Linked DNA regions of Homo sapiens: all the other regions are reported to be linked to region 1. Evidence: microRNA targets listed by miRTarBase, many of them from high-throughput screens and not tested one by one. Region 1 holds a microRNA gene; each other region holds the end of a gene's coding sequence.
Evidence for each region. The annotated mature microRNA hsa-miR-1914-3p reads GGAGGGGUCCCGCACUGGGAGG and lies in region 1 at 2,389-2,410, shown strand. An mRNA with a match to its seed (bases 2 to 7 or 8) in the 3' UTR can be bound and repressed. Matches are read on the target gene's strand: a 7mer-m8 pairs with bases 2 to 8, a 7mer-A1 pairs with bases 2 to 7 and ends in A, and an 8mer does both.

Region 2: the mRNA of PPP1R10 is a reported target of hsa-miR-1914-3p. Seed matches in the 3' UTR shown: 7mer-A1 at 7,518-7,524 and 7mer-m8 at 7,093-7,099.
Region 3: the mRNA of ZC3H18 is a reported target of hsa-miR-1914-3p. The part of its 3' UTR that is shown has no 7-base or 8-base seed match.
Region 4: miRTarBase lists WDR33 as a target of hsa-miR-1914-3p. The part of its 3' UTR that is shown has no 7-base or 8-base seed match.

Annotation. Positions count from the first base shown.
Region 1 is chr20:63,936,032-63,943,883 of GRCh38, reverse strand. It overlaps MIR1914 (microRNA 1914), which reads left to right and starts at 2,340; the gene lies at 2,340-2,419. UCKL1 (uridine-cytidine kinase 1 like 1) reads left to right here. Exons shown (of 15, transcript NM_017859.4): 8 at 215-231; 9 at 2,676-2,774; 10 at 2,841-2,934; 11 at 3,028-3,090; 12 at 3,168-3,290; 13 at 3,399-3,506; 14 at 3,578-3,734; 15 at 3,829-4,055. The coding sequence ends at 3,908. MIR647 (microRNA 647) reads left to right here and starts at 1,158; the gene lies at 1,158-1,253. RefSeq lists enhancers at 141-852, 853-1,566.
Region 2 is chr6:30,593,908-30,601,759 of GRCh38, forward strand. It overlaps PPP1R10 (protein phosphatase 1 regulatory subunit 10), which reads right to left. Exons shown (of 20, transcript NM_002714.4): 20 at 6,506-7,751. The coding sequence ends at 7,642. Among named protein-coding and RNA genes, the nearest start is that of MIR877, 14 kb to the left of the region's middle.
Region 3 is chr16:88,628,364-88,636,215 of GRCh38, reverse strand. It overlaps ZC3H18 (zinc finger CCCH-type containing 18), which reads right to left. Exons shown (of 18, transcript NM_144604.4): 16 at 7,362-7,458; 17 at 5,635-5,731; 18 at 4,252-5,115. The coding sequence ends at 4,917. It overlaps LOC124903755 (a long non-coding RNA gene), which reads right to left and starts at 1,208. Exons shown (of 2, transcript XR_007065181.1): 1 at 1-1,208. RefSeq lists silencers at 1,144-1,303, 1,524-1,603, 1,644-1,703, 1,804-1,853 and enhancers at 513-1,442, 2,714-2,783, 7,191-7,852.
Region 4 is chr2:127,703,674-127,711,525 of GRCh38, forward strand. It overlaps WDR33 (WD repeat domain 33), which reads right to left. Exons shown (of 22, transcript NM_018383.5): 19 at 6,020-6,183; 20 at 5,817-5,909; 21 at 5,004-5,219; 22 at 1-2,879. The coding sequence ends at 2,650. It overlaps SFT2D3 (SFT2 domain containing 3), which reads left to right. Exons shown (of 1, transcript NM_032740.4): 1 at 1-1,569. Among named protein-coding and RNA genes, the nearest start is that of SFT2D3, 6.1 kb to the left of the region's middle.

The DNA of each region.
Region 1 (7,852 bases):
CCAGGGTCCTGGCTCTGATTGCCCCAACGCAGAACTGCAGGTCTGGCCCAGGTGGTCCCCAGGTTACAGGCATTAGAAGCTTGCCACCCCCCATGGCTGGCTGTGTCCCCGCGGGCCTGCAGCATGTCCATTCCTGGGTGGGGGTGGCCTGGCCGCCTGCCCTGGTCACTGACGCGCCACCGTTCCCTTGTGTCTTCCTGTGTTGCTGCCACAGCGTGAACTCAGCGTCAGGTAAGACTTGCACAGCTGTCTGCACAGATGGAGGCACTTCCAACACCTCCAAGGAGCTCTGGGGTCTGGGCTGTGATCCAGCCAGGCAGCTGGCTCTTCCCCAGTCACAGAAGGGGTGGTGTGGAGTGGTCCCAGCCCTGCTTCTGCCTCCCCTTGCTGGCAGATGAGGACACTGAGGCACAGAGACGTGAAGTAGCTTGCCCAGCGTCACGGAGTCCTGACCCTGTCCTGGCCAGACTTTGCTGGAGGCTCCCCTGACTCCTGAGTCTGTCTATGGGATTTGACCCCAGAGAGCACAGCTGTCCTCCTGAGCCAGCACTGCCAGGCCTCTGGGGCAGTGACTACAGACATGTCCCAGCAGCCAGGGAGCCTGCTGTACCTCCTGTGCCCAGCCTCACGGACCAGTCAGCTTTCCCTGGTTGCAGGTGGAGGGCCTCGCGCCTGTCCTCCCACCCACCCGGGTCCTGCTTGCCCCAGCTCTGTCCTCGCAGCCCGCACAGCTCTGCCAGCAGGAACTGGGCAACTGCAGCAAGAAGCTTGGGCTGGGCCGGGGCCGCATCCCACTGTCCCTCCCCAAGGGCAGGCATGCAGGGGGGTCAGCCACAAGGGACCTGCCCTTCTCCCTGCCTTCTGTGGGTTGGGAGGCTCCTGACTGAGCCACCTGGAGGGAGAGCCCTCACATTCAGAGCCCTCCAAAGAGTTTGCCAAATGTTGGAAATGCCTCCAGGGCCCGTCCACCAGCCGTCCAGCTTCCGGTGCCTGCATGAGTCTCCGCTTGGCCCTCTCCTCGGCCTAGGAACCCGCAGGTCTTGTCCCGTCAGGTTCCTCCTGAAGCTTTTGTTCTGAGAGGAAAAACTTTCCAGGGTTTCAAACTTGGAAAAACACCTGAACGCAGCCAGACACATTTTCCGTCGTCTGGTCAGCCAAGGAAGTGTTGGCCTGTGGCTGCACTCACTTCCTTCAGCCCCAGGAAGCCTTGGTCGGGGGCAGGAGGGAGGGTCAGGCAGGGCTGGGGGCCTGACCGCCCACACTCCTCCTCAGGCCTGCGGGGAACGCCCTGCTCCCCAACTAAGCAGCCTTCTCTTTGTTCTCTTCCTTCTCTCTGTAAACCCCCGTTTCCTGCCTTGTTCCCTCCCTGAACATGCTCTTCACCTGGCAAGCAGAGGAAGCTACGTTGGGATATGTGAGCAGTGTGCTCCGTGGTGCTGCTGTGTGACCCGCCTTCCCGTAGCCCCTTGCCCCGCTGCTCCCGCTAGGCCCTCTTTCCTGCTCCTGCCCCGCCCCTTTCCCTGCCGCTGTCACGCCTCTTTTCTGCCCTGCCACACCCCATTTCCGGCCCCGCCCCTTTCCCTGCCGCTGTCACGCCTCTTTTCTGCCCTGCCACACCCCATTCCCGGCCCCGCCCCTTTCCCTGCCGCTGTCACGCCTCTTTTCTGCCCTGCCACACCCCATTCCCGGCCCCGCCCCTTTCCCTGCCGCTGTCACGCCTCTTTTCTGCCCTGCCACACCCCATTCCCGGCCCCGCCCCTTTCCCTGCCGCTGTCACGCCTCTTTTCTGCCCTGCCACACCCCATTCCCGGCCCCGCCCCTTTCCCTGCCGCTGTCACGCCTCTTTTCTGCCCTGCCACACCCCATTCCCGGCCCCGCCCCTTTCCCTGCCGCTGTCACGCCTCTTTTCTGCCCTGCCACACCCAATTCCGTGCCCTGCCTCTTTCCTTCCCCTGCCACACCCAATTCTGTGGCCTGTCGCTTTCCTCTTCCTGCCCCTGCATCACCCCCTTTCCTGCCCCGCCCCATTCCCTGCCCCTGTCATGCCCCTTTCCGGCTTTGCCTCCTCCCTGTCCCACCTCTTTCTTGCCTCCACCCCGCCCTTTTCCTGCCCGCTCCTAGACCTGCTGCTGCCCCGGCCATCCCCAGGCTTGGGCAGCGGGGCGGGACGGGACAGCCAAGAGACACTGAGCCAGCTTTGCCCCCCACCCCCCTCTCTTGAGGGGCCGCGCACCACCTCGGGGAGGAGCCAGGGCGGGGCCTGACCCCACAAAGCTTTAGTTCCCCCGGGGAGAGGCTGGGGACAAGCTACCCATTCTGGGGTATGACACCTATCAGCACGTGTGAGCCCGCCCTGTGCCCGGCCCACTTCTGCTTCCTCTTAGCGCAGGAGGGGTCCCGCACTGGGAGGGGCCCTCACAGCCTACCCCGCTAGCTTTCTGCCTGATGGTGAGCTTGCCCCGTTGTTCGCCGCCATCTTTCGCCTTTGCCTGACAGCTCAGGTAGGGCGACGTCTCCCCCCAGCTCAGCCCCAGGCAGAAGTCAGGCCCGCTCTGCACCTCGTGCTGTGCCTGGCCCGTGTGTTCCCCTCACAGTGACGCACAGCCGTCCTGTGGGGAGGGAGGGCTCTGGGAAAAGACCCCCTTCTTGAGTGTTCCCCATCGGTTTGTCCCCAGGGCTGCGCTGGCCTCGGCACACCAGTGCCACCCGCTGCCCCGGACGCTGAGCGTCCTGAAGAGCACGCCGCAGGTACGGGGCATGCACACCATCATCAGGTGAGGGCCCACCTGGGGACGGGGCGGCCCCGGGCGCGTGCTCCCGCTCAACTGTTGGCCCCACAGGGACAAGGAGACCAGTCGCGACGAGTTCATCTTCTACTCCAAGAGACTGATGCGGCTGCTCATCGAGCACGCGCTCTCCTTCCTGCCCTTTCAGGTTCGTAGCCCGTAGCCCGCGAGGTGGAGGGTGGGTCTTGGAGCCGGTGCGAGCTCCCTGCGCTCACCGGAGTCCTCACCCTGCACCCCACAGGACTGCGTCGTACAGACCCCGCAGGGGCAGGACTATGCGGGCAAGTGCTATGCGGGGAAGCAGGTACCTGCCTGGGCACACCTGGGCGCGGGACAGGCTGCTGGGGCGGGATGTGGGCGCTTAGCCTCCCCTCCCCGCAGATCACCGGTGTGTCCATTCTGCGCGCCGGTGAAACCATGGAGCCCGCGCTGCGCGCTGTGTGCAAAGACGTGCGCATCGGCACCATCCTCATCCAGACCAACCAGCTTACCGGGGAGCCCGAGGTGCCTGGGGGCAGCCGGGGTGATGAGCCCGGGGGTAGGGGGCAGAGGGAGCTCACAGCAAGGGGACGCAGGGAGCCCCACCTGCAGCCTGACCCCTGCTGCCCGCAGCTCCACTACCTGAGGCTGCCCAAGGACATCAGCGATGACCACGTGATCCTCATGGACTGCACCGTGTCCACGGGCGCGGCGGCCATGATGGCAGTGCGCGTGCTCCTGGTGAGTGAGCCCTGGGTAGGCGGGGCAGGTTCAGGCAGAGGTGGGATTTACCTGCCCAATACACTCGGTAGGACCACGACGTGCCTGAGGACAAGATCTTTTTGCTGTCGCTGCTCATGGCAGAGATGGGCGTGCACTCAGTGGCCTATGCATTTCCGCGAGTGAGAATCATCACCACGGCGGTGGACAAGCGGGTCAATGACCTTTTCCGCATCATCCCAGGCATTGGTGAGGCTGCCCGGGCCCTTCAGCCGCACATGAGGGCAGGGTGGGTGGCCCTGGGAGGCCCCACCACACTGGACCCCCCCCCCCCTTTTTCCAGGGAACTTTGGCGACCGCTACTTTGGGACAGACGCGGTCCCCGATGGCAGTGACGAGGAGGAAGTGGCCTACACGGGTTAGCTGCCCAGTGAGCCATCCCGTCCCCACCACCCTCCTCCTGCCTCCTGACCCAGGACTGCTGAATACAAAGATGTTAATTTTTAAAATGTTACTAGTATAATTTATTCTATGCATTTTATAAAATAAATAAAGCTTTAGAAAAATGAAGGTGTGATTGGTTACAGCACAGGAGAGGTGTCCTGGCTGAGGCATGCATTTGTGGAGACTCCCATGGGGAGGGAGGGAGGGAGCTGAGGGCCCTGCCTTCTCCCCTGCAGGACCAAGCATTCCCAGTCTTGCACTTGTGCCAGATGAAGGAAGGGGTAGAACTGGGCCCTGCAGCTCCTAGCTCTGCTAGATGGGGCCCCTAGAACCCATAGCTTGGTGGCCACCTGGCCTGGACCTAGGGAGGGGACAGGGCCCCCTGGTGCTCTGGGTCTCACAAGAGGCAGGCTGTTTTGCCCCCACCCACAAATTTGTACCATCAGGGTCCTCCCCACAGTTGGGGGGGGGGAGGGTCCTTCCCGTCAGGACAAGTCGCTGGAGGCAGCAAAGCCAGGAGGCAGACCAGGGCGGAAGTGGGGGCCTGCGCTTGGAGGCGGGGCCACCCGGGGCCCACGAGCCCGGAGCCACTGCTGCTCAGGGCCCGCCTCGCTCACCCCTCCAGACCTGGAGGCCCACCCGCATCCCGTGCTCTCTGCCGTGCCCACGCCCGCAAGCGTGGGTTCCCTTAGGTCCTGCCCACCCTGCTTTCCGAGCAGGCCCCCCCCGGGCTCCCCGAGAGGAGTCGCCGCCGTGGTTTACTGAGGAAGAGGAGGTGCACGCGCGGCGCCCACACGTCGGGCCCCGGAGAGGCCCAGATAACTGAATCAGCCTCCCGGGGCTCAGCCGTGGAGCTGAGGGCTGATGCTGGGGACTCAGCCGTGGGCCAGGCGCATCTGACACGGGACACGGTCGTCCCCGTCCTCTCAGGCGCCAGTGTCTTTCTGCGTGGAAGTCCACGGCCAAAAGCGTGGCGTCCTCGGAGCCTGGCACCTCGATTATGCCGGATCCCGGATCCTGGACAGGGGTCTGCTGACGAAGGGAGGGACGGCGTAAGGCCGGTCTTCCCAGATGCCGCGAGACCTTGCGCTGCAGTGGGGTCTCCCATTGCCCATGCGACCAGGCCGGGTGGGCGCTGGTCCCCACGTGGGGGGCCCATCTGCGGGTGCAGCGCTCCCGCCACTCGCCCGCCCCACCGGTCCCGATTGGCCACGCCCCTGCCCAGCCCCCGCTCCGCCTGGTAGGCCAGGTCCCGCTGGGCCCCACCGAGTGACCACGCCCCTGAGCCGGCCCCGCCCCCGCGCTGGCCCCGCCCCCCACCCGACCCTGAGCAGCGGGGCTGGCGCTAGAAGTGGTCCCTTCCTGGCGTTCCTCGGTCACGGAGAGCGGGGCGCAAGGAAGGCATAGCCGGGGGGAGCGGGGAGGGTGGTCCGACCCCGTCTTGGAGACGGAGGAGATTCCTGGGGCGCTGGGCGGACGGAGAGTTTTGCCGCAGCGCCTGTTAACCGCGGTCCCCTGGACCAGGAGAAACAGGGCCGACAACCCTCCCTGGCAAGGGTCTTGCTGCCCGCCACCCAGTGTCCAGTGCTCGGCTTGCTGTTAACATTTCTCTGTAAGAATCCCATATATAAAATACTTAACATAGGCCGGGCGCGCTGCCTCACACCTGTAATCCCAGCACTTTGGGAGGCCTACATAGGTTCGAGACCAGCCTGGCCAACATGGTGAAACCCCCGTCTCTACTAAAAATACAAAAAATTAGCTGGGCGTGGTGGCGCGCCTTTAGTCCCAGCTACTCGGGAGGCTGAGGTACAAGAATCGCTTGAACGCAGGAGGCGGAAGCTGCAGTGAACCGAGATCGCGCCATTGCACACCAGCCTGGATGACAGAGCAAGACTCTGTCTCAAAGGAAAAAGAAAAAAAAAACTGAACTTAATAAACGTGGATTCTACTTAATTAAGAAAATTCAAAGACCAAGCCAGAAAAAAACGTCTGACAACGCTAAGGCTAGAAGGGGCAGCGAGAAGATGGGGAGCCTCTTTGCAGGGCAGTGTGGGGCCACCAGTCAAGGGAAGGCTTCCAGATCCCGCTCCCAGCGATCCCACCCGAGACAACTCAGCAGCGACATTCAGGCAGCTTTGTTTCCACAGTGAGAAACTAAAAACCTGTGGTCAGTTTGCCCAGGACCGACTGTGATTAATTCGTGACTGTTCTGTACAGAAGCTAAAATGAACCAGACCTAATATAACCACACGGCTTGATTTCTTAACTACTACTGTATCAAATGAAAAACTTAGGCCTGGTGCAGTGGCTCACGCCTGTAATCCCAGCACCCTGGGAGGCCGAGGCGGGCGGATTACCTGAGGTCCGGAGTTCAAGATCAGGCTGGCCAACATGGTGAAACCCCGTCTACTAAATACAAAAAGTTAGCCAGGCGTGGTGGCACATGCCTGTAATCCCAGCTACTCAGGAGGCTGAGGCACAAGAATCACTTCAACCCAGGAGATGAAGGTTGTAGTGAGCCGAGATTGTGCCACTGCACTCCAGCCTGGGCCACAAAGACTCCGTCTCAAAAACAAAAACAGGCCGGGCGCGGTGGCTCATGCCTGTAATCCCAGCACTTTGGGAGGCCGAGGTGGGCAGATCACAAGGTCAGGAGATCCGAGACCATCCTGGCTAACACGGTGAAACCCCATCTCCACTAAAAATACAAAAAATTAGCCAGGCGTGGTGGCGGGCGCCTGTAGTCCCAGCTACTCGGGAGGGTGAGGCATGCGTTTTCCTAAATGGCGTGAACCCAGGAGGCGGAGGTTGCAGTGAGCCAAGATCGCGCCACTGCACTCCAGCCTGGGTGACAGAGCGAGACTCCATCTCAAAAAAAAAAAAAACAAACAAACTCATAAGGCAGGTGGTGTACTCAGTACTATGGTGTAGTACAATTTATGTAAAAAGGTATAAACCAATAGTACGTCTTACTGGACCTGACAGTGGTAGACAGAGTTTAAAGCTATGGAAGCAGAGGATGGAAATGGGGAGAGACGCAAAACGGTCTTGGATGCTGCCATTTTTTTAAAATGGAAAATCTGACTCAAATTTTTTTTTTTTTTTGAGACGGAGTCTCGCTCTCCCACCCAGGCTGGAGAGCGGTGGCACGATCTCGGTGCGTTGCAACCTCCACCTCCCGGGTTCTAGCGATTCTCCTGCCTAAGCCTCTTGAGTAGCTGGGACTACAGGCACGCACCACCACGCTCAGCTAATTTTTTTTGTATTTTCAGTAAAGACGGGGTTTCACCATGTTGGCCAGGATGGTCTCAGATCTCCTGACCTCATGATCCACCCACCTCGGCCTCCCAAAGTGCTGGGGATTACAAGCGTGAGCCACCATGCCTGGCCCTTCCTTCGTTTTTCTTAAGTCAGAATAGAGGATTTCAAGATGTTTGTTACGTTATTCTGAGTTTTTGTTAGTTTGTTGACAGGATCTCCCTCTGTCACCCAGGCTGGAGTTCGGTGGTGTGACCACAGCTCACTGTAGCGTGGACTTCCCATGCTCAAGTGATTTCCCTCCTGACGAGCTGGGACCTCAGGCACGGCTACACCCAGATAATTTTAAACTCTTTTTTGTAGAGACACGATCTCACTGTTGCCCAGGTTGGTCTTGAACTCCTGGGCTCAAAGCAATCCTCCCACACTGGCCTCCCAAAGTGCTGGGATTATAGGCATGAGCCACCACGCTTGGCCTCTTTGCTCCAGTCTTGGTATTTAGAAAACGGAGGTGAAAACACAATCAAGAGGAGGGGGCATTTATCCACATCTGGACCAGGCAGGAGGGAAGCAAGGTTCCAGCCGCAAGGGGTGTGGAGGGCTGAGATCAGCTGCTGCTCTCCAAAACCAGGGATCTGCGGGACTAGCGAGTAAGACATACG
Region 2 (7,852 bases), not on the chromosome of region 1:
GAATGTTATTTATAAAGTGAATACCAGCTTGCATTTCAAATATTTGGTCACTAATTTCACTACTTCAAACATAAGTGAGAAAAGTACTTTAAGTACTCCAAAATAACTTTCCGCCACAGGCATAAATTTCATTTCTCTCTCTGTTCTTTTTTTTTTTTTTTTTTTTTAAAGATGAGGCCTTGCTATATTGCCCAGGCTGGTCCCAAACTCCTGGCCTCAAGCAGTCCTTTCTCCTAGGCTCCCCAAAGTGCTGGGATTACAGGAATGAGCCACGGCACCTGGCCACAAACTTTATCTCCTCCCGTGTATGTTTTAACTTCTGTGATCCCTGTAGCCGATCATATGTGCTGTTAATGGAATTAATAATTCACCTAAATGTGGGCAAAAGTATGCCCTCCAAAAAGCAGCATAGAAATGGAACACGAAAGGGAAACATTTCCATGGTAGCGCATGGAAATTTCATTAACCAAATTAAATTGTTTTATTTATAAACAGCTTATTACCTACAAGTGATGCACATATGTGGTACACAGTAAACATCGTAGAAATGTGTTTTTTGTTGTTTTGAGATGTGGTCTCCCTCTGTTTCCCAGGCTGGAGTGCAGTGGCACAATCATGGCTCACTGCAGCCTCAACCCTCTGGACTCAAGTGATCCTCCTACCTCAGCTTCTCAAGTAGCTGGGACTACAAGTGTCCACCAACATGCCCAGCCAATTTTTTAATTTTTTTGTAGCAAAGAGGTCTTGCTTTGTTGCCCGGGCTGGTCTCAGACTCCTGGGTTCAAGTTATCCTCCCACCTCAGCCTCATTAAAGCCAAAGCCTGAAGGTAGGAAAGGAAGAGCCTTCAGGGAAGGGACCAAAATGTGCAAAGACCCTGAGGCTGAAAAGAGCTGAACATGGTCAAGGAATGGCTGGAGCTGAGAACTTGAGCATGCGCCAATACACACGGGGCCTTATATGCATAGACAGCAGGTTGGGATGTGATCAGGAGAGGCTGAGCAATGGGAGGCCATTGGTTCTGTTTAGCCAGGAGTGCAAACTGATTCAGTTTTCATTTTTACAAAATTGCTCCTGGCTGCTAGGTGGCAAATAGTGGGTGTGGGGAGACAGGGAAAAGAGATGCCAGGAGAACAGCTCAATATTACTTTGGAAAGAAGATTCTCTTCATCTAAGAATGGAATGGAAGGGAGATAATGTAGACTCAGATATTTCCATGTGAAGGGAAGGGAAAATGTTGCTCACAGTGGATGGGACTCACTTTTTCCCAAGCTTTGGTGCCAGAGAATCAAGAAGAGTAGGCCGCGCACGGTGCCTCATGCCTGTAATCCCAGCACTTTGGGAGGCCGAGGCAGGCGGATCACCTGAGGTCAGGAGTTCGAGACCAGCCTGACCAACTTGGCAAAACACCGTCTCTACTAAAAATGCAAAAATTAGCCAGGAGTAGTGGCACGCATTTGTAATCCCAGCTACTCAGGAAGCTGAGGCAGGAGAATTACTTGAACCTGGGAGGTGGAGGTTGCAGTGAGCGGAGATCATGCCATTGGACTCCAGCCTGGGCAACAAGAGCAAAACTTCGTCTCAAAAAAAAAAAAAGGTTTGCTGAGCAGCAGTAAGTGTAGAATCAATGCTAACATTAATTTGTACTGGGCTAAGATAGTAGGATTTTGTGATTTTTCAACATTAGGTCTACTGCCCAGGAGTAGGAATGAAAGAAATAGGATAATGATTCTGAATTGAAGATAGACCCCGTTGCACCTGGGGAAGGATTGACAGAAAGAGAACGTTGAATGTCACAAGGGTATTTTAGAGGGAAAAAATGGAAGCAGAAAGGAAAAACAGACTGAAACGGTAGAGAGAAAAGTGCCTGCAGGGAGGGCTTGGTGAAGAAACATCATTGTAGTGAAATGAATGAAATGTTCAACCTCTCTCCCCCTGCAAAAAAACAAAAAACAAGGAAAATCTTCTCTTTATATAATCTAAAGTTTTTACGTAAGTAAAAAGGAACAGGTAGGCCGGGTGCCGTGACTCACACCTGTAATCCCAGCACTTTGGGAGGCCAAGGCGGGTGGATCACCTGAGGTCAGGAGTTCGAGACCAGCCTGGACAACATGGTAAAACCCCATCTCTACTAAAAATACAGAAATTAGCCAGGCGTGGTGGCAGGTGCCTACAATCCCAGCTACTCAGGAGGCTGAGGCAGGAGAATCCTTGAACCCAGGGGGCAGTGAGCCAAGATCGTGCCATTTCACTCCAGCCTGGGCAAAAGAGTGAAACTTGTCTAAAAAAAAAAAACAGGTTTCTTTGAATTTTTTTTTTTTTTTTTTTTGAGATGAAATTTTGCTGTCACCCAGGCTGGAGTGCAATGGCACGATCTCAGCTCACTGCAACCTCCGCCTCCTGGGTTCAAACGATTCTTCTGCCTCAGCCTCCAGAGTAGCTGGGATTACAGGCACCAGTCACCACGCCCGGCTAATTTTTTGTATTTTTAGTAGAGACGGTTTCACCATGTTGGTCAGGTTGCTCTCGAACTCCTGATCTCAGGTGATCCACGCGCCTCGGCCTCCCAAAGTGCTGGGATTACAGGCGTGAGCCACCACGCCTGGCCGAATTTTCATAAATGATTTGAAAGAAAATGAGCTCATTCTTTCTTTTTTTTTCAGACGGAGTCTTGCTCTGTCGCCATCCTGGAATGCAGTAGCGTTATCTCGGCTCACTGCAACCTCTGCCTCCTGGATTCAAGCGATTCCCCTGCCTCAGCCTCCCAAGTAGCTGGGACTACAGGTGCGTGCCACCACTCCCGGCTAATTTTTTTTTTTTTTTGAGACAGAGTCTTGCTCTGTCGCCCAGGCTGGAGTGCAGTGGCGCGATCTCTGCTCGCTGCAAGCTCCACCTCCCGGGTTCATGCCATTCTCCTGCCTCAGTCTCCTCAGTAGCTGGGATTACAGGCACCCGCCACCACACCCACCTAAGTTTTTGTATTTTTAGTAGAGAAGGGGTTTCACCTTGTTAGCCAGGATGGTCTCCATCTCCTGACCTCATGATCTGCCCGCTTCGGCCTCCCAAAGTGCTGGGATTACAGGCGTGAGCCACCGCGCCTGGCAATTTTTGTATTTTTAATAGAGACGGGGTTTCACCATGTTGGCTAGGATGGTCTCCATCTCCTGACCTTGGGATTTGCCCGCCTCGGCCTCCCAGAGTGTTGGGATTACAGGTGTGAGCCACCGCGCTCGGCCGAGCTTATTCTTAAAATACAGTAAAAACTTTAAGCTCTCTTTTAAGGTTCTTGTGGCTTGTTGCAGGAGATAGAAGAAAGGTGAGAAGCAGGCAGTAAATGGAAGCAGAAAGAGACACAAAGTTGTGACCACTAGGTTGTGACATGTTTGGGTTTTTTCACTTGAGCTGTATACTTCTTTGGTATTTCACGCCCTAGCCTGGTCCTTAGATTATGTCTTCTCAGGTCTTCTCCCAGTGCACACAGCAACAACAGACTGACCTGAACACCTCCGCCCACACACACCAAGCCTGGGCAAGGGGAAGGTAAAACTACCCACTTTGGGCCTACATGCAGTGAGGCCTTTCAGATACTGATAAAACATTGTTGCCCCCTCATGTGGCCAATGCTGGAAATACAGCTGAGACACGTATTCCAGGGCAGTGTAGCAGCCTCAGCAACTGGGAATTTGTTAGAAATGCATATCTCGGGATCCATCCTGACCTACTAAATCAGAATTTTGCTGGACCCTACCCCCAATCTGTCTGTTTTTTCTTTTTGTTTTGTTTTTGTTTTTTGAGATGGAGATGGAGTCTGGCTCTGTCACCCAAGCTGAAGTGCAGTGGTGTGATCTCTGCTCACTGCAACCTCCACTTCCCGGGTTCAAGTGATTCTCCTGCTTTAGTCTCCCAAGTAGCTGGGATTACAGGCGCGAGCCACCATGCCTGACTAATTTTTGTATTTTTAGTAGAGATGGGATTTCACCATGTTGGCCAGGCTGGTCACAAACTCCTCACCTCAGGTGATCCATCCGCCTTGGCCTCTCAAAGTGCTGGGATTACAGGCATAAGCCACTGCATCCAACCCAAATTTGTTTTTTTTTTTCTTTCTTTTTTTTTTTTTTTTTTTTGAGACCAAGTTTCGCTCTTGTTACCCAGACTGGAGTGCAATGGTGCGATCTCGGCTCACCACGACCTCCACCTCCCGGGTTCAAGCAATTCTCCTGCCTCGGCCTCCCGAGTAGCTGGGATTACAGGCATGCGCCACCACGCCCGGCTAATTTTTGTATTTTTAGTGGAGACGGGGGTTCTCCATGTTGGTCAGGCTGGTCTCGAACTCCTGACCTCCTGATCTACCCGCCTTGGCCTCCCAAAGTGCTGGGTTTACAGGTATGAGCCACTGCACCCGGCCCCAGATTTGTTTTCTAATAAGCTCTTCAGATGATCCTGATGAATGCTAACAGACTTGAAAACCGCCATTCTCAACCCACATGTTAAAACATGTTAATATCTTCAACTGCCCCATATCTGCCACACACACTCCCCCCAGAGTGATGTATCCTTTCTTTTTTTTTTCAGATGGAGTTTCACTCTTGTTGCCCAGGCTGGAGTGCAGTGGTGCAGTCTGCAACCTCTGCCTCCTGGGTTCAAGCGATTCTCCTGCCTTCCGAGTAGCTGGGATAACAGGCGCCAGTAACCACACCCAGCTAATTTTTGTATTTTTAGTAGAGATGGGGTTTCTTCATGTTGGCCAGGCTGGTCTCGAACTTCTGACCTCAGGTGATCCAACTGCTTCGGCCTCCCAAGGTGCTGGGATTACAGGCGTGAGCCACCACGCCCAGCTTTAATTTCTGGTTTAAGAGTGGAGGCCAGGCGCGGAAATGGGGAAATGGAGTTTCCCTATGTTGCTTAGGGTAGTTTTGAACTCCTGGGTTCAAGTGATCGTCCCATGTGGGCCTCCCAAAGTGCTGGGATTACAGGCGTGAGCCAACATGCCCAGCTTTAATTTCTGGTTTAAGAAGAGTGGAGGCCAGGCGCGGAAATGGGGAAATGGAGCTTCCCTATGTTGCTTAGGGTAGTTTTGAACTCCTGGGTTCAAGTGATCCTCCCATGTTGGCGTCCCAAAGTGCTCGGATTACTGGCTTGAGCCACCATGCCTGGCCAGAGCCACTTTGGGAAGAGCAGTCTATACTTACCCTTTGTTTTTTTGTGACGGAATTTTGCCCTGTCACTCAGGCTGGAGTGCAGTGGCATGATCTCGGCCCACTGCAACCTGCACCTCCTGGGTTTAAGGGATTCTCCCGCCTCAGCCTCCGGAGTAGCTGGGTTATAGGCACCCAGCTAATGTTTGTATTTTTAGTAGAGACGGGGTTTTGTCATGTTGGCCAGGCTGGTCTCCAACTCCTGACCTCAGGTGATCCACCCACCTCGCCTTCCCAAAGTGATGGGATTACAGGCATGACCCAATATGCCTGGCTTTTTTTTTTTTTTTTTTTTTTTGAGACAGGGTCTTGCTCTGTTGCTCCGGCTGGATTGCAGTGGTACAATCATAGCTGTGAGTTTGAACTCCCAGGCTCAAGTGATCCTCTCGCCTCAGCCTCCCAGGTAGCTGGAACTAAAGGCATGTGCCACCATGCCTAATATTTTTTGTATTTTTTGTACAGACCTGGTCTCCCTATGTTGCTCAGGCTGGTCTCAAACTCCTGGGCTCAAGTAGTCTTCCCACCTCGGCCTCCCAAAAGTGCTGGGATTACAGACATGAGCCACTGATACCCAACACTAACCTGGCTAAGGTCACCCAGGCTGTAGAGAGGTAGAGCTGGGACAATGGCCTTTATCTGACTCCAGCATCCTCAGGATTTCCTCCCTTATCTGTAGAATGTGGATAAGATGACCAAGAACACATCCTAGAGGGCACGATAGCCAGGATAGGACTGTTCTAGGAACACACACGAGGCGTGTTAAAGAAGACTCAGAAAGATGAAAACCAGGAAAGAGCCCTGTGGCCGAGATCTACTCTGTATCCTAGAGTATTTTATGTACTTTTTGAAGCATTTTTTCACCAGTACTTAATAGCAACTGTTAGATCAAGCATTAGCTCCAGAGGAGTAAAAATCAGATTCCACAGATTTGTACTAATGTATCTAACACAGGTGGTAATGGCTTTTAAAAAAAAAAAAATGAAAAACAGTCCAGGCCGGGCGCGGTGGCTCACGCCTGTAATCCCAGCGCTTTGGGAGGCCGTGGCGGGCAGATCACGAGGTCAGGAGTTCCAGACCAGCCTGGCCAACATGGTGAAACCAAGTCTCTACTAAAAATACAAAAAAATTAGCCAGGCATGGTGGCAGGTGCCTGGAATCCCAGCTACTCAGAAGACTGAGGCAGAAGAATCCCTTGAACCCAGGAGGCAGAGATTGCAGTAAGCCAAGACTGCACCACTGCATTCTAGCCCAGGCAACGGAGCGAGACTCCGTCTCAAAAAAGTCCAAACACACTAGGGGTTAAATAAGCTGCTTCTCTTTCCACTGTTTATTATTAATGTACAAAATATACAAAACCAAAAAAAAAAATACTCATCCTCAAATCCATTTTGGCTCTAACCCAAGACCCTGCACAAAACCCAACCAATCCACTGTTTTCATAGAAAACAACTGATGCCAAAGTGAAGGAGAGAACTGGGAAAGGGCAAAATCATCTTGTTGAATCCACCCAGGAAGGCGCCTGGTGGGGATTCAGAGGTGGTTGACAGGGTGAAGTACCTGGAAGCCTCCTTCACGCTGGCAAGGTTCCAGGTGGGAGCAGGGAGTGAGCTGACTCCCAAAGGCAGTGCATGTAGTGTGACTTTCAGGCCCAGCACGCCGGGCCCAAGTTGATGAGAAGCTGGTCTCACTGAAGTATTTTATCAAGTCTCCAGACTGGCTATAGTTGGCAAAGGCAGACCAGCACCACCGGTCTCACCTCTGCCAGCTAAAACTTGCACCGGATGCAGATACGAGTTCGCCATCATCGAACCTAGCAGACCCAGGACGCAGACTGGGTGTTCACAGAAAGTTGAAGGTCCCACTTGAGAAAGGACTAAGAATGGTGAGCCCACGCTGGGGGAGGGGTGGGGATGATGTGTGTTCCAGAACTCAAATCCAGCTGATTGAGCCCTCTCAGTGCAGTGGGATATACAATACCCCTTTCAGCATCTCCCCACCCCATGAGGAATAATGAACTTAGCTGGGATGATTTCTTAAGTGCAGCTGATCCTGTGTCAGAGTTCTGTGTGCATGTGGGGACCCGCAATAGAAGGGTAGGGGTGTTCGCCAGGATAACCAGCTTTAGGTTCTCAAGCATTAAGGGTAATACTGGAAAGGGGTTTGGGGTACAGGGCGAATCTTCTCAAAAAGTGAAGCCAACTGGGTCTCCTCTTCAGCAGTCCAGGAACGTTTCCAGTCTCTCTCCTCCCCAGACTGGAGGAAAATATGTACATCAATGCGCACCAGTGATCAGAAAACCCCCAGGAACCCAAGCAAGTGGGAACTGAGGGGGCCGGCTCCTCATCAGCTGGGGAAAAGGGAAAATGGGCCTCACAGAAGCCATAACAGGGTGGAAAGAGCGAGGCTGCAGTCCACAGGGGTTGTGTGAACAGGGCAGGCAAATGGTCCCTAGGGCAGGGGGGGCCCATTGACACCCGGGTGGTAGAAGGCACAGTTGTTCTCATAGCGGCAGTTGCCCTTCATCATGAAATGTCGGCAGACAGGGCGGTTTGACATGTCTGTGGGAACGATGGCAAAACAGTTAGACAGGAAATAGCTGAGGGCAATGCCACCCTCACCACCCCTTGTCCATGACATCCTGAGAACTGTCTTTCAGAGA
Region 3 (7,852 bases), not on the chromosome of region 1:
GATACAGGCCTCTCTGCACGGGCGCTTGGCTGTCTCAGAAAAATTCCAGCCCCTCACGGCCCTCCCCAAAAGGCGGCCTGAGCGCCTTGAGGGCCACGTCTGTGGCAGCCCCATCTGTGTACCCAGGGTTGAGAGTAGTGCAGGGCATACAGGAGGGTGCTCTGTAAATAACACAGAATGGAAAAAGGAGGGAGGAGAGCGGCTCTCCCCATGGGTACAGTGGGATGATAGCAGCTCCAGTGCCAGGGCTGCCCTGAGGCGCATTAGCATCACCTGCCTGGCTCAGGTGGTCGCAGGCCGCAGCACCTGCCGCCAGGAGGCTGACAAGCACTCTTACTGTTGGGAGACAGGGCGGCGGCAGTGGGGCAGGGGTGTTTGTCTTTTCTCCAGAGTCCACTCAGCCATTCTTCTGGGGACAAAAACTCAAGACCCCCCGCAATCTCTGCATGCCAAGCACAGCCTGGGGGTAGGGGGCTGGGCCCCTCCCTGGCTCCGGAGTCTCTGGGGGCCTCCCCTGGGTTGAGACCTACGAAGCAGCCCCGGGGTCCCTTCTGCCACAGAGAGGGGCCCAGGGGAGCCTCATTGGAAACGTCCCGAGGGGCCTGCAGCTGGGTGCTCAAGATGTTTTGTGGAAACCCTGACGAGTCACCGGGCTCAGCATGGCCGGGCCTGGCCTCCCCAGTGCTCTGCCCAACCTGCCCAGCTGCGGCTTGGGGCTAGGGCTGCAGGCCAGGCCGGGTGGGGAATCTTGAGGAGGGGAGGAGGGTGCCTTCGTGCAGGGTTAGGGAACGCACAGTGTTGGGAGGGAAAGACAAATTGATGTCAGTCCTCGTCCTCTGCTGGGAGTCCTTGTGCAGTGCACGACCTGCTCAACCATACCCAAGAAAGAGAGGAAGGGGGAGGGAATAGGAGCCAGAGGGAATGGAGGAAAACGCCAGGAAAAGACGGGGAGAGCGAGAAGCCCCCCACCTCGGCCTAGTGCCCTCGTCCCCCATCCCCCGGTGGAGCCAGTGACCCTCCCTCCTGGCATGGGGAACAGGTCTGTCCACACGTGGGTCACACACGCCGTTCCCTCGGGCAGGACCTGGTCGGCCTGATGAGGGCAGCCAGTGCCTGAGGAGGTAAATGGCCGAGTGGAAAAGTTCGGCAGGAGGGAGTGAGCAGAAGAAGCCGGAGCCCTCGGGCACAGGAGTGTCCTCCCCGGCCTCCCTCCCTCGGCTGGGCGCCCCCGCATCCTGCGCCCCGCCCAGGGGAGGATGGAAGAAGGCAGCCCCACCGCGGACTCCGCTCCGCCCCCGCCTCCTTCCTCCTCCGACCCGGGGCTGCCTTCTCCCCAGCGGCCGCCGCCCCATCTCCCGCTTTGCTCTGGTTCTGAGGTGGGACGGCCGGACTCCCAGGCACAGGCTGCACCGCGAGAACGGCGCCAGGGACCCGGCCAGCGCCGCGCGTCTCCCCACCTTCCGCGTGTTCTCAGCGCTGTCCCGGGGGTCGCAGGGCCAGGAAGACACGCCCGGGGGGACCTGCGGGACCTGCGGACTGGGCGGGGCCCGGGGTCCTGTGGGCGCAGAGGACGGGAGGACGAAGGGCGGCCTGCGCTCCTGCGGGTGGCTGAGGCAAGCGCAGAAATACCGGGTTGGGCAAGACTGGAAAAGCGGCGGCAGGAAGGCTGGAGGGCGACCCGGAGGCGGAGGCCCAGACAGGCCGAGCGGCTCTCAAACCACAACCCGGGCCCGCCCCCAGCAGACCACGCCCCCGGACCCTGGTCCGGAGATGCGGAACGAGGGGCTTCAGACAAACGCAGGGCCGGGCGGGTCAGAGGCAGCGCGGGGGACGCCCCCCAGACGCAGCGAAGGACGGACCCACGGTCAGGAGCCCTTCAGCGCCCTGAGCGGGCCTGCGGGAAGAGGGGTGAGGCAGGGAGGGCACTGGACAGGGCGGAAGGAAGCGCTCTCTGCAGGGTCTCCCCCCTACATCAAGGCGCAGGTGCACAGTGGGTCACGCGCTGCCGGCTGCCCACAACGCAGGTGTGTCCAGCCGAGGGCACTGCTGGCGGGGGTGCAAAATCGTCATGGGACGTTGGCTGGGACAGCAGAGGGCCCCTCCCTGCGGCGCGGCCGCCCCCACCCCCTCATGGGTTTTCCCCGGCAGGAGTGGTCTCGTGTGTCTCGGCCTTTTCCCCATCTGTGGATCCCTCTAGGGCCACCGCCTCCAAGCAGGGTCTACGTCTGCCTGCCCACCCAAAGCCCAGCCGAACGGGTGGGTGGAAGCGTGGCTGTGGGGGAGGAGCTGCGGGCAGAGGGCAGAGGCCCTGGGGCACCCCCTGGGAGGGGCTGGCGGGCGGATGCCGTTGCCAGAATCCCACACAGGCTTTCTAGTCACTGCATGGGGAGCGAGGAGAACGTGAGTGCCAACCACCTGGAGCAGGACGTCCCTGGAGGGCGTGGACGCCCATCGATGCCTGTCACACAGCAAGGCCGTCCTTCCCAGCTGCCTGACCAAACATCCTCTCCACTAGACCACATGGGGGCAGTCACCCTCCTAGGACAGGCCCCTCTGCACCAGTGTCCAAGAGCCAGAGGGATGGGTAGCCACACCTGGGGTCCACTGCCACCCGGTGCGAGTTCAAACCCAGCTCCAGACTGAGGTGCCTAGGGCTGTGGCCGGGGGCTGAGCAGCCGCAGAGGGGACCTCGCCTGGTCCCAGTCCACAGGTGAGCTGTGGTGGGTTCACCTGTCTGCTCCTGGCCGTTGAGCTGTGGTGGGCTCACCTGTCCGCTCCTGGCCGTAAAGAGACAGTCACTGCAGATGCTAGCTTGAGGTGCCCCACACTGGGGGCACAGAGCGCCATTTCCTGGCCTCCAGCCCTCATGGTGCAGCTCACAAATGACAGGCTGCAGGCTGGCACCCAGGGTGGCCTGGACTCCAGCTCTGTGGCCTTGAAGGCCACCCTTTTCAGAGAATGGGAATTCCCTTGCACCTGGCTTTGACCTGATGGCAAATCGGATAAGCCTCAAAAAACTGTGGCCGGACGCGGTGGCTCACGCCTGTCATCCCAGCACTTTGAGAGGCCGAGACGGGTGGATCACGAGGTCAGGAGATCGAGACCATCCTGGCTAACATGGTGAAACCCCGTCTCTACTAAAAATACAAAAAATTAGCTGGGCGTAGTGGCGGCCGCCTGTAGTCCCAGCTACTCGGGAGGCTGAGGCAGGAGAATGGTGTGAACCCGGGTGGCGGAGCTTGCAGTGAGCCGAGATCGTGCCACTGCCCTCCAGCCTGGGCGACAGAGTGAGACTCAGTCTCAGGAAAAAAAAAAAAAAAAAAAGAAAAGAAAAAATTGCTGAGACACATGATCCAGGCCGCTGGGACACAAGATGAACTGCATGGCCTGCGCTATCGGAGGGAGGTGGACATAAAATGGGAAACAGTCCCCTCAGGAGTGCACAGGCGGTCCCCCTGTGGTGCTCGCTCACGCCCAGCTCCTCTGCCTACACTCTAATTGTCATTTAATCCAGGGGAAGAGTGGCATGGACGCAGGTCATGCTGGGAGCAGAAGCACGGGATGCTGCCTCCCTGGGGCTCAGCTCGCGGCCCCGTGGGAGGGAGCTCTCTCTTGGAGGTCTCATCCTGAACCTCGGGTCAGGAAGTAGATGAGGGAGATGGGTGGGCCGCAGGCCTGGGCACCACACCGCGGCTACCTGAATCTGATTAAAGGAGGCGCTGGAGGCCCTGGAGCGTGCACCTGGGAGGCCGCTGCCCAGGCGCAGGCCTGTGGCTTTCAAGGTGGAAAGCAGGGAGCAGCAGCGGTGGGTCCTGGGGGGCTCTGCCGGTGGCCCCTGCTGTGGAACGTGGCATCACACGCGGGGCCTGGCTCAGCAGGTCTGGGGCCTGCACACGGAGCCGGTGGTGGTCACTGCAGTGGTGGCAGCTGGGCTTGGGGCTGGGAGTCAGCCCTGGACCTCTTCCCCTCCAGCAGCTCCACGGCCCCTGCAGGGAAAGTACCTCCACCTCACGGACCAAGGAAGCCCCAACCCAGCCCCACGAATGGGGAAACTGAGGCGCAATGCTCTCCTGGGCTGGGTCTGAAGGCAGGAGCTGCTCCACAGCCGGTCCTCCCGGGGGGAGTGAGTGCACAGCCACACCCTCGCCCCCCAGCGGCTCCCGAGTGCTGGGCCGAGTGCAGTGCACGACACAGAGGCAGCCCCGGCTGCGCATGGGCAGAGGGCGCACACACCACGAGGGCAAGGACAGCTGCTTATCAAAATATTTTATTTTAGGAGACCCCTCAAAAAAAGACCCACCACATTAGACAGACGCCCCAACAACACCCTTGGCCTTTTTTTGGTCTTTTCTGTATTTTTTCCTTTTTAAATCAACTAAAACAATTTGATGCTTAAAATAAAAGACAGGAAATATTTCCTGATGAGACTTTAGTCGAGAATATAGATATATTTCTGATCCGGGGGCGGGTGATCAGGGGCGGGGGAGGAGAAGGATGTGCCACCAGTGGTTCGCGAGGTTCCGTTTCTCAGCTCAGGAGGGAGCCTGGCTGCCTGGACCCGGGCTAGGGACCCAGAGCTGGGGCTCCACAGGCCTGACCAGGGCCAGGGAAGAAGACGGAGGAGGAGGAAGAGAAGGCGGGGCTGGCGGCTGGGGCTTGTAATTTACATGAGAACCGTGCTGGTCACTAGCGCTGTCTGTGTCTGTCTGTCCTGCGGGACTTCTGCTCTGGGGAGGGAGGCTGGGATTCAGCGTCGTTGTCATTTCCTGTGTGGCTTCTTTTCCAGCTGAGAAACTTTTTTTTCTTTTTTACTTTTTAAAAAGAATCACAGCCAAAATAAGACATTAACTGCAAAATCCAAAATGGCTGCGCTTACCCTATGTATAAAAATGCGTCCAGTCCGGTCGGGGCACGGCCTATGCTTTCCCGGGGATCTTGGCCCGCTTGCGTGCAATAGCATCCTCCACGGCCTTCAGCTGTTTCAGCAGCTCCTCCCGCCGAGACAGCGTGCTGGCCTTCCCTGATTTGGTGCTGGCGGCGCCGGGATCCGAGGCTTTGCCGGGCACGCTCGTGACCTTGCTGGAGCTCTTGGACTGGGGTGACAGCTGGCGCTTCCTACAAGGGGGTGGGGAAGACCTTGAGCCCCCAGAAGCCACGTCTGCAGGTGGAAGGGGTGACCTCCCCGTAGGGGCGCTTCCACTGTGTCCTCAGCGGCCACCAGGACAGGCAAGGGGCTCCCTGGATGGCCAGGCTCCCACTGCCACAAGCAGGCCTGGTCCTAGCCACTGGCTCCCGGGCTTTGTGGAGCAGACTGGGAGGGTCCTGGGCTGGCCCCGCACAACCTCCTGTTATTCTTCCCACCTCTGTGCCCAGGGATCTTTTGCCCAAGGGCATGCGGAGCAGAGGGCACCCTCCAGCCTCAACCAGGGCAGGAGCGTGTGTGTGTGTGTGGGGGGGGGTGGGGGGTGGGGCTGCAATTCGCTGTCCATGCCCCTCACCCCGTCAGACCAGCAGGAGCTGTAGTGACGCCTCCAGCCTGGCCCAGTGCTAGCCCTGCTGCTGCTGGCCTCCCTGGGGAAGCGACTGGGGCTGGCCCCCTCGGTGTGCCCAGGGCACATGCTGGGTGGGACTCACCTGTCAGCCGGGGCTGCAGGGGCTTTGGAGTTCTGGCCTCTCTGCCGCTCTGGCTTCGGGGAGCCCAGTCTCCCACCTGACTTCCGGTCCCGAGAACCTGGGTGATAGGTACAGAGTGAGACCACCCTCCTGATGTACAGGGAATGGCTGTGTGGGTGGCCTCACCGATGCCAGGGACTCACTTCTAAAGCCTGAGGCTGCTTAGTTCACCACCTTCATTTTTATAAAGAAATAAAAAGGGGAGAGCCAAGTAGGAGAAGAGAGATGTGGGCACCAAGGCATCTGGAAATGAGGCTGAGGCCAAACCTGGGCCCCAGGTTCCAGCAAGCAGCCAATATCTCACGCAGAGAGACAAAACTCCTTCCTAGCTTTGAAGAAATTTATCACATGGGTCTTCAAATACGGAACAACAAGAAAGACATGGCAGTAAAGAAATACAAGCAAAGCCGAGAGACTAGGAGTGTTTCACTCTGGCAATGTTAGGAGGGAGGCGCGGCAACCGAGGGGGGGGCCACTGCCCAGCGCAGGCCCAAGGCTGGTGCGAGAACAAAGGTCCGCAGGACCCCAGAGGCCCTGGTTCCAACCCCAGGCAAGGGCAGCAAGGCTGTTCCAGACCAGCCACACAGGGCACAGGCCCTGGGCTTAGGGACAAAGGTGAGCAGCTTCCTCTTCCTGTGTCCGACAAACCCAGAGAACTGCTTGGGAAGGGGTCTGGAAGCCCCCTGCCTGTTCTCTGTGTCTGGGAGTGTCTGTGCGGGTGGCCAGGCCCCCTTGTCCTCTATCTGGTTTGAGCTCCACCCATCAAAGCCAGCCAGGACAATCTCCCTGTCTTTCCATCTGGGCCCCAGCTCTTGGGGTGTGGTCAGCATGGCTGGGGGTCCCCGAGGCCCTTTCAGGTCTGTGTGGTTCAACAGTAATATAGACACTATCTGCCTCGTCACTCAGTCCGCAGGAGCCTGGGAGGATCTCCAGAAGGCACGAGGCATGTGGGTCCAGCCGTCTTCCGTCAGCCAGACTGAAGAGATTTGCAAAAATGGAAAAACCAATGCCATTCCTGCTCATTTGTTTTGGAAAATATATTTTGCAAAAATGGCACATGTGTAAAAAAAAATACAGTTGCTCTTGTTGCCCAAGCTGCAGTGCAATGGTGCAATCTCAGCTCACTGCAACCTCTGCCTCCCAGGTTCAAGCGATTCTCCTGCCTCAGCCTCCCAAGTAGCTGGGATTACAGACGCACGCCACTACGCCCAACTAATTTTTTGTATTTTTAGTAGAAACAGGGTTTCACCATGTTAGCCAGGCTGGTCTCAAACTCCTGACCTCAGATGATCTGCCCACCTTGGCCTCCCAAAGTGCTGGGATTACAGGCATGAGCTACCGCGCCCGGCCTAATTTTTGTATTTTTAGTAGAGACAGGGTTTTACCAGGTTGGCCAGGCCGGTCTGGAACTCCTGACCTCAAGTGATCTGCCGGCCTCAGCCTCCCAAAGTGCTGGGATTATAGGCGTGAGCCACCACGCCCGGTCCTGTTATTTTTAAACAAATATTTAAAACCTTTTCTTCGTTTTAGTTTTCAACACCCTAAATACCGACAGGCATCATCTGCAAGTCAGATGTTCTCTGGACCCTCCTCCTACTTGTTAAGAGCAATGGGGTCTCAGACCCAGCTGCTCCGCATCCCCAGGCTCCCGTCCCTCTGCCCTGCCCCCTAGGGGCTGGGAGGCTCACCTCGGTCTGGGGATGTGTTGGGCCGCTTGGCTGGAGGAGGGCTCTGCCTGTCCTTGTCTGATGGTTCATAGCGCTTCCTGCTTCCTTTATCAGCCGCCTGGGACAAGAGAGAGGCCAGTGAGGACAGCAGGGCCAGGAGCCAGAAGCCGTGTCCTCGCCCCAGAGGACATGGGTTCCTTGCCAGCAACCTGCTCTGCTCCCAAAGGTCCCACCACACACCCATGAGACCCCGTAGCCCTGAGTGAGGCCTCCAGGACCCGGACCAAGGGCACCCCCACTGTGCACTTGGGGCCCTTCACGTTCCAGGGGAAGCACCCTGCAGGCCTTCCTGCTCCCCACGGGGGCCACTCTAGGAGGACCTGGGACCCATGAAGCCAGGCCTCTTGCCCTTCCAGCAGAGGACAGGGATGTGTCCTGCTGAGGACAGAGGACAGGGACGGAGGCTTCCTGTATTGTGTTGAGACTGCATGGCAGGGAATGGCGGCCACAGG
Region 4 (7,852 bases), not on the chromosome of region 1:
ATTTTTTTAATTAATTGTAAAGACTTGTGCCATTGGCTGCTCTTTCTAGTCCCCTAAATTTCTGTTCTAGTTTTAAATTTCTCTAGAACTTGCAATAGTTGGGGGTTTTATAATGATGTTTTACAATGTTTATTTCTTAAATAAAAACTTAAAAATTCAACATTTCTCAGCTGGTGGCTCACACCTGTAATCCCAGCATTTTGGGAGGCCAAGGCGGGAGGATCACTTGAGGCCAGGAGTTCAAGACCAGCCTGGGCAACACAGTTAAACCCCATCGCCACAGAAAATCTTCAAAAAATTTGCCAGATATGGTGGCACACAACTGTGATCCCAGCTACTTGGGGTGGGGCTGAGGTGGGAAGATCACTTGAGCCCAGGAGGTTGAGGCTGCAGTGAACTGTGATCACACCACTGCACCACAGCCTAGGCAACAGCGAGACCTTGTCTCAAAAATTTTTTCTCAAATCAAACATCATTGAAAATCTACTTTTTATAAGCTTCAAATCACAACATCTAGTATGTATGCTGACAGTGATGTTTTTAAATGCCATATATATTTAATAAGTATAATGTAGAGGTTTATTGTTTAAATGAATTCACTCTCAAAATGTGATCTGTCAAGTCCAGTAGAGCTTCAAGGTAAAATGAAAATTTTTAAATGTGATCTGGTTATCTGCTTACTGAGATACTATGTTTCTAAAGTTAAAGCCCAAAATAATGAAAATTTTTCCACTAGAATCTCAGGGAAAAAAAGTCTAATCTTGATATGGGTTTGGTCTCTGGATCCGGTTTTAGCTTCATGAAATTTGATTACAGTTTCTCTCTCTTTAAGCTATACCAGTTGGGGGTGAGTGAAGAAATACCCATAACCTAAAGCAATCTTGAGCCTCCTAATAGCATGTTTATGGTGGAGCGCTGATTAAATAAGCTGTAATTTCAAAGTTAAAAAAAAAATAGTCTCTAGATTCTAACACTGAAAAGCAGTGTATATGGCTGACATTTTCTCACTCCACAGAAATCAATTAGCTTTTGCTGTTTTTTACATTCATAGAGAACCAGTTAAATTTTCATATCCTGTTAAACTATATCAGTATGCCTTTTCTAAGCAACCATTGAAACTTCCAGCACCAGCGGCCAGGTACTGTGGCTCAGATCTGCAATCCCAGCACTTTGGGAGGCCACAGCAGGTGGACCGCTTGAGCCCAGGAGTTTGAAACCAGCATAGACAAAGTGGTGAAACTCCATCTCTACAAAAAACACACACACAAAAAATTAGCTGGGCATGGTGGCATATGCCTGTAGTCCTAGCTACTAGGGAGGCTGAGGCAGGGTCAAAGCTGAAGTGAGCCGTGATTGCACCACTGCACTCCTGGCTGGGTGACAGAGCAAGACTCTGTCAAAAAAGGAAAAGAAAAAAAGAAACTTCCAGCACCACTAAATTTGCCAAATAAATTTGACTGATGCCAAAACTGAAGCTGCCAATGTAATGAAATGTTAAGGTGGCCATAGGACAGTCCTTTTAATAAAAGCTTCCATGTAAAACCAAAATAAAGGTCAGTATAGAAAGTATCATGGGGTATATAACAAACTGAATTTTTGGCTTCCAATCCAAACTGGGCTAAATGGTATGTTTATTTTAAACAAGGAATTTGCCATGGACAAGATCTATCTGGCTTACTGTGAGTTAGAAGTACGCCCTGCCGTAACACTGGTATTTCCACATAGTATGGAAGAGGAAGAGAGGAAAACTTAATTAAGTGTTGCAAAATTGTTTGAGGACCTATTTTGGTCCATTCCTTATCAACTCCATGTGTGATTTCAAGTTATCTAAAGGGCATGTGACTTTATTTCTGACTAACATCAAGTTCCTCTCCTCATCATAACAAGGCGATTCAAACCTAAACTGTGATTCTTAGGAGATGCTTCCAAGGGGAAGCTCCCTCGTTGGACATCCAGAAGATTGCATTTTCTCTTCAGAGTACAATTTTCCATCTGTCAGAGCATGTCTGAATAAAAATTTGAACCTACTACAAACTACATTAGAATAATTTTCAAGTATTTTTCTGTCACAAAAATGGTGTGACAGAATGTGTTGAAAAACACAAAGTTCACAGCTGAGATTAATTTAGATAACCTAGTGGTTAATATGCTCATGAACATCAGCAACAACCGTGCATTCCTTGGCAGATGGGATGCGATGGAAACCAAAGGTTTCCTTAAGGCAAGCACTTCACAACTAGTTTTCTGTCAATTCTTGCGTAAATCACATTCTGTATTCATACAAAAACTTTGTTTTTCTCTGACAAACTGTACACATAGAAACAAATTTCCAAATGGACAGGAACTTAAATTTGTGGAGATGCCCCATGTCTTGTGAGACTTAAAAAAAAGAAAAAGATCCCAGCTTTTATCTTCACAAAACAACATGGGAGTTGGGGCAATGAGGGTGGACAGGACAGGGCCAGCCAGGCTGGTAGCTGGCAGCAGTCTCTTCATCTTGAAGACCTCATTGAGGGTTCCTGGGATTCAGGTGCCCAGAAAAGAGTTCAGGGCTACAATGGTGCAGGCTTCCTTTTGTTTCTCTTGGTGAGTCCACAAGAAGTTCTTACATACTGTCCAGAGAGGCCTCAGGGTACTCAGTTCCAGCTTCTACCGACCCCTTCCACCACCCCGTGAAGCTCCTCGCCTCGGCGGGCCAGAGTTCATGTTACTCCCTCTACCCCAGTTACTGCCACTCCGGCCCCCTCGAGAAGGGGTGCCACTGCCTGGAGGGCCCCCAAAAGGTTCATCTCTGTGGTATCCATCGTGGTGCTCTCCGTCTAAGGAGCTGGAACGCCCAGATTTGGGCACTCTCTGAGCAGGTCCTGGGCCCCCTCGGCCTGAAACAAAGAAAATTTCACATGGGACTTTTTGTATTAGCAACTGTTTGTCAGTAACTCCCAGTACAAACTTTACTCTCTGATGACAATGGACCAGTTCTGGTGGGTGCCAGGGAGACTGGCAGTGGTATTCAGCGTACTGAGAGGTGTGCCTCTACCCTTTCCTGACCCTGCCTCCCCCTTCCTGGCTCATGGCCATGGGCCTCAGCATCAGCCAGATCCATGCCCCCAGGGCTGTGTGACAGACGACAGGAAGCCAAGAGATGAGCAAGGAGCACCTTCAGGGAGACCCGGGCCACACTGGGCCATGTCCCAGGCCATGGGAAGTGTATCTGCCTGCTCCCAGCCACCAGGGTATATTGAGGGAAGGTTTGAATATACTGACTTAACTTTGGAAGTACACACTGCTAATGTTAATAAAAAGTGCTCCAACTAGGACAAGCGTTCACTGGGACTGTCCCGTGACATGTGGCACTTTTGGCTTCCTTTTCATAATTAGTAAAATAAAGTATTTCTTGAAAAAACAAAAGAAAAGCACAAAAACCCAAAAACCCCACAAAACACTGGCTTTCAGGTTCTATCACCGAGGCACAGCTTAACCTGCTTCAGACTAGTATGCACAAATGTTTAGGTACTATTAAAATTCTTTCATTCTGTTGCAGCTTGAGAATATATTTAAAAAAAAAAAAAAAAGAAAAAAAAGAAAGGAAAAGGAAAAAAAATTCTATCTTGTAAGATTTTTTTCCTCAGGAAATGATAGGATTTGGTCACATCTCCCATAATGCACTCTCAGAAGATGACTGCAAACTCTCCGCTGTCTCATATTTTGTAATAGAATATGAATCTAGCTGAGATGAAGTTAGGAGAGCCAGCCAAAGGAACAATCTTGGCTTCTTTTCTTAGAAAGTGCAGCTTCAACCCACCTGAGGCACCTGGGCAGAGTGTCAGCTACTACATCATTCCCATGCTAACTGCATGTCCTTGACCAGAGGGACCTAATAATGGTGTGCTGAGTGCCCAAGAAAGTCAGCCAAGGTCACAGCACACTGGCTAGTAGTACAATGTGTTTATGCAGGGTGATCTATTGATGATACATAAGGTAATTTCTGAGGGTTTTGTTGAGACAAACAACTATCAAGATCAAATGGCAGGCCAGGCATGGTGGCTCATGAGAGGCCAAGGCAGGTGGATCACTTGAGGCCAGGAGTTCGAGACCAGCCTAGCCAACATGGCAAAAGCCCATCTCTCTAAAAACACAAAAGCATGGTGGCGCACACCTGTAGTTCCAGCTACTGGGGAGACTGAGGCACAAGAATCACTTGAACCTGGGAGGCGGGGGTTGCTTGCAGTAAGCCAAGATCACACCACTGCACTCCAGCCTGGGCGACAGAAAAAAACCCAAAAAGACCAAATGGCAGAACTCTGTACTGGAAGGACCGTCCATACAGACAGGCCAACTTCAGGAGCAGAGCACAAGCTGGGGCATGCGGGGAGCAGCCTTCCCAGAAGCTTCCGAGCCACACCACCTATGCACCTCCCCCGCTGCCTTGCAACCAGAGTTGTATAGTCAGCCTTCAGAGGCAACTACTCCTGGCTAAAGTTAGTGCTGCCTATAACATAAAGCTCCACAGTTCCCAGTTGAGGAGATAATCTACTGTGCCCCTGGAAACACTGCCCATAGACCATGTTTCCCAAAGTCTCTGTGACTTTGAGCACAAGCAGTGTTCCTCTAGACCCAGGCTAAAAAAACCAACAGACCACCCAGGAGAGGACAACTCTTCCCCTCCCACTGAGAGCCCTTGAGGGTTCCAAGCAGCCTTGTGGAGGGCAGACTGCCAAGGAGAGCAGGGCTCCCAGACAGCAAGCCGAGCAGAGAGTGCTGGGGCATCTTGGCAGAGGGCTGAAGTGAAAACCTCAAGTGAACAGGGATTCCCGGAGGCAAGTGGAGTCCTGTGCAGGGCTGAGTTGCAGTCCACCAGATGACAGCTCGTGTGGCACTGGCACCACATTTAGGAGCATGTGCCTCTGCACAGCCCAGGCTGCAAGGGCATGTGCAGCAGATACAGGCAAGGCCTCCATCGGCCCCTGCATCTCCTGGAACCATAACCACTGGCCTGCTCTTACCTTTGCCTCCTCGGTCTTCAGAAGGGCCTCCTGGGGCCTCCATCTCTCTGTGCTCAGAAGTGCCTGGGCCATCATGCCAGGGGCGCTTTCGGGGAGGTAGGGATGCCATGTCCATGCCTTGGAGAGAAGAGGAGCGTTCTCTGCTGGCTGGGGAATGACCGTCGTGAGGGGGATGATCAGGGCGGGGAGTATCACGAAAATGTTCATGACCTGGCCCTGAAACAAGAAACAAATCTCCTTACAGGAAAGCACAGTGTGACCAGAAGTAGATGGGAATGACACTGTGAGAGTAAGGAGCAACTCGAGAGCCACCGTTCACTCATGCTGAATGCCCGCCAGAGGCCAAAGGGTAAGCCACCCAGACATCAGGGTGCCTCCTCATGTAAGAGGGGCAGGTAAGATCCAGAGAACTCGTTCTCAGGCATTGTAGTATCAAGACGTCTTTACAGTCTCAAATTACTGAGGACTCCTAAGAGATTTTGTTAATGAGAGTTGTAACTGCGAATATTTACCATATTAGCAATTGAGACTGGGGAAATTTTAATTCACTTAACTTTATTCTCCAAAAGCAATTTAGTGGAAAGAGCAGTCCCGTTTTATACTCAGATAGATCCCTGTAATGTCTGGCGGATTCCTCTGCTCTGCATTCCACCTGCTGAGATCAAGTGCTGCGGCTGCAGGACAGGAGACAGCCCAGCCCCCCGGGAGACATGAGCTGGAAAGAGGAGACCCGGTGCACCCCAGAGAGGGCCCTCAGAACTCACTTTGTGAACTGCAGTCTAGAGTTACCCAACAAGCGGTTCTTTTCCTTACCAGGCTCTCTGTTTCCATCCCAGGAATCTGGCTTCCGCCCTCCTTCAAAGCGAGGGAACTCGTCAGGAGTGGGAAGTAAACCCTTCCTTCCTCCTACACAACAGAGCAAACAATGCTGCACTCAGACTGTTCCTGGTGTATTCACAACCAGTGTATTCTGCACCCTATCCTTCCAGACCAGGTGTCTTTAGTAACTCGCTCACCTCGTGGGGTACCCCGACCTCGACCTCTGAGATCTCGTCCTCGGGCCGCTTCCTCAGAAGCATCAAAATTCTCCTCTGGACCAAAGTCTTCAGGACCAGGAAAACCATCCCTTCCTCTGGGGGGAGCACGGCCCTCATGCCTCGGCGGGGCTCCTCTTCTGAAACTGTAAAGAGAAAACAGCAGAATGTCCATCTCAGAGAACACCTTGCCACTCTAAGTTCATGTTTCAAAGAAGCATATGATATGAGAAAGCATGATACAATGTTAATTGGGAGGAAAACAAAATAAAACTATATATTTTTGAAAGGATACATTATATAATCCTATTAATACTATCAGAGGCAAAAACAGACCAGAAGGAAACACACCAGAGTGTGGAGTTACTTTAAGCTTCTTTTAGGCTTTTAGGTATATACAAGTATTACTTCATTTCATTCATTTCATTTTCACAGCCACCATATGAAGCTGGTATTATCAGCAGTTCCACTGATGAGAACACTGAGGCCCAGATTGCTGACATCATTTATTCAAGGACACAGAGTAAGTGCTGGTGATCTGAACTCAGCCAGTCTTGACCCTCGGCCCAGGTTCTGTATCACTGCCTCACAAATACTTATCATTATCATCTACATTTGTATGATGAACATTTATGACATATAATCAGAAAAATGGGGGCACAGATCGTGTCTGCCAACCATACTGGACCTGTCTGTAGGTAGGGGCTCTGCCATCTGCCCCAGCCCACAGCCTCCACCCAGGGGCAGGCCTCCATGACCACGAGTGGCACTCATGGCCCGAGTCCACAGCTGATGGGCACACAGGTCAGCATCTGGTTTACAGGCAGCGATCCACTGGCTAGCTGGCAGTCTGGAGCCCTGCTTAGTGAACAGCTTCCCCTTCTCTCAGGAATTTTGGAGCCAGGAGACTACACTGACTGGGAGTATTGCTGAGGCAGAGAGGGTACCAGGAGGTCTGTGCGAAAGAAGAGAAAGTGACCTTCTGGCAGCGCTCACTGAGAGGCGGTGGCGCCACCCTGCAGGGCCCCTCTGCATGAGCTGCATGGCCTCCTCCCAGGCCAGGCCTCTGCTCTTCCTCAGGTTTCCATTCCATTGCCTTTATCCTAATCTTCTACTTGGAAGATTTTCAAACTTACAGTAAAGCTGAAAGAACAGTACAATGAACATCCCAGATCCTCCACCCAGATCAATCCCTTCTTAATATTTTGCCACACGTGCTTTATCTTCTCCGTCCAGCTACTCACAAACATGTTTTCTAAACCATTTGAAAATCAGTTGCCAACACGAGCTTTACCCCTAAATCCTTCAGTCCATTTCTTCTAAGAACAAGAACTTTCTCCTATATAATCACAATACCTTTACACTCTCACACACCAGCCTAGGCTATGGGTCTGCACTGACAGATGAAACACAATACAAATCAAGACAGGATGGCCGGGCACAGTGGCTCACACCTGTAATCCCAGCACTTTGGGAGGCCGAGGCAGGCAGATCACTTGAGGCCAGGAGTTCGAGACCAGCCTGGCCAACATGGCTAAACCCCATCTTTACTAAAAATACAAAAATTAGCTGGGCGTGGTGGCGCGTGCCTGTAATCCCAGCTACTCGGGAGGCTGAAGCACAAGAATCGCTTGAACCCAGGAGGTGGAGGCTGCAGTGAGCCGAGATCATGCCACTGCACTCCAGCCTGAGCGACAAAGCAAGATTCCCTCTCAAAAAAAAAAAAAAAAAAAGACAAGGTAAAATGTAACATTTTGCACAAGATGCAGAGATTCAATAAGTCAGTGAACATTACGCAGATGTAAAGCTCTTCTA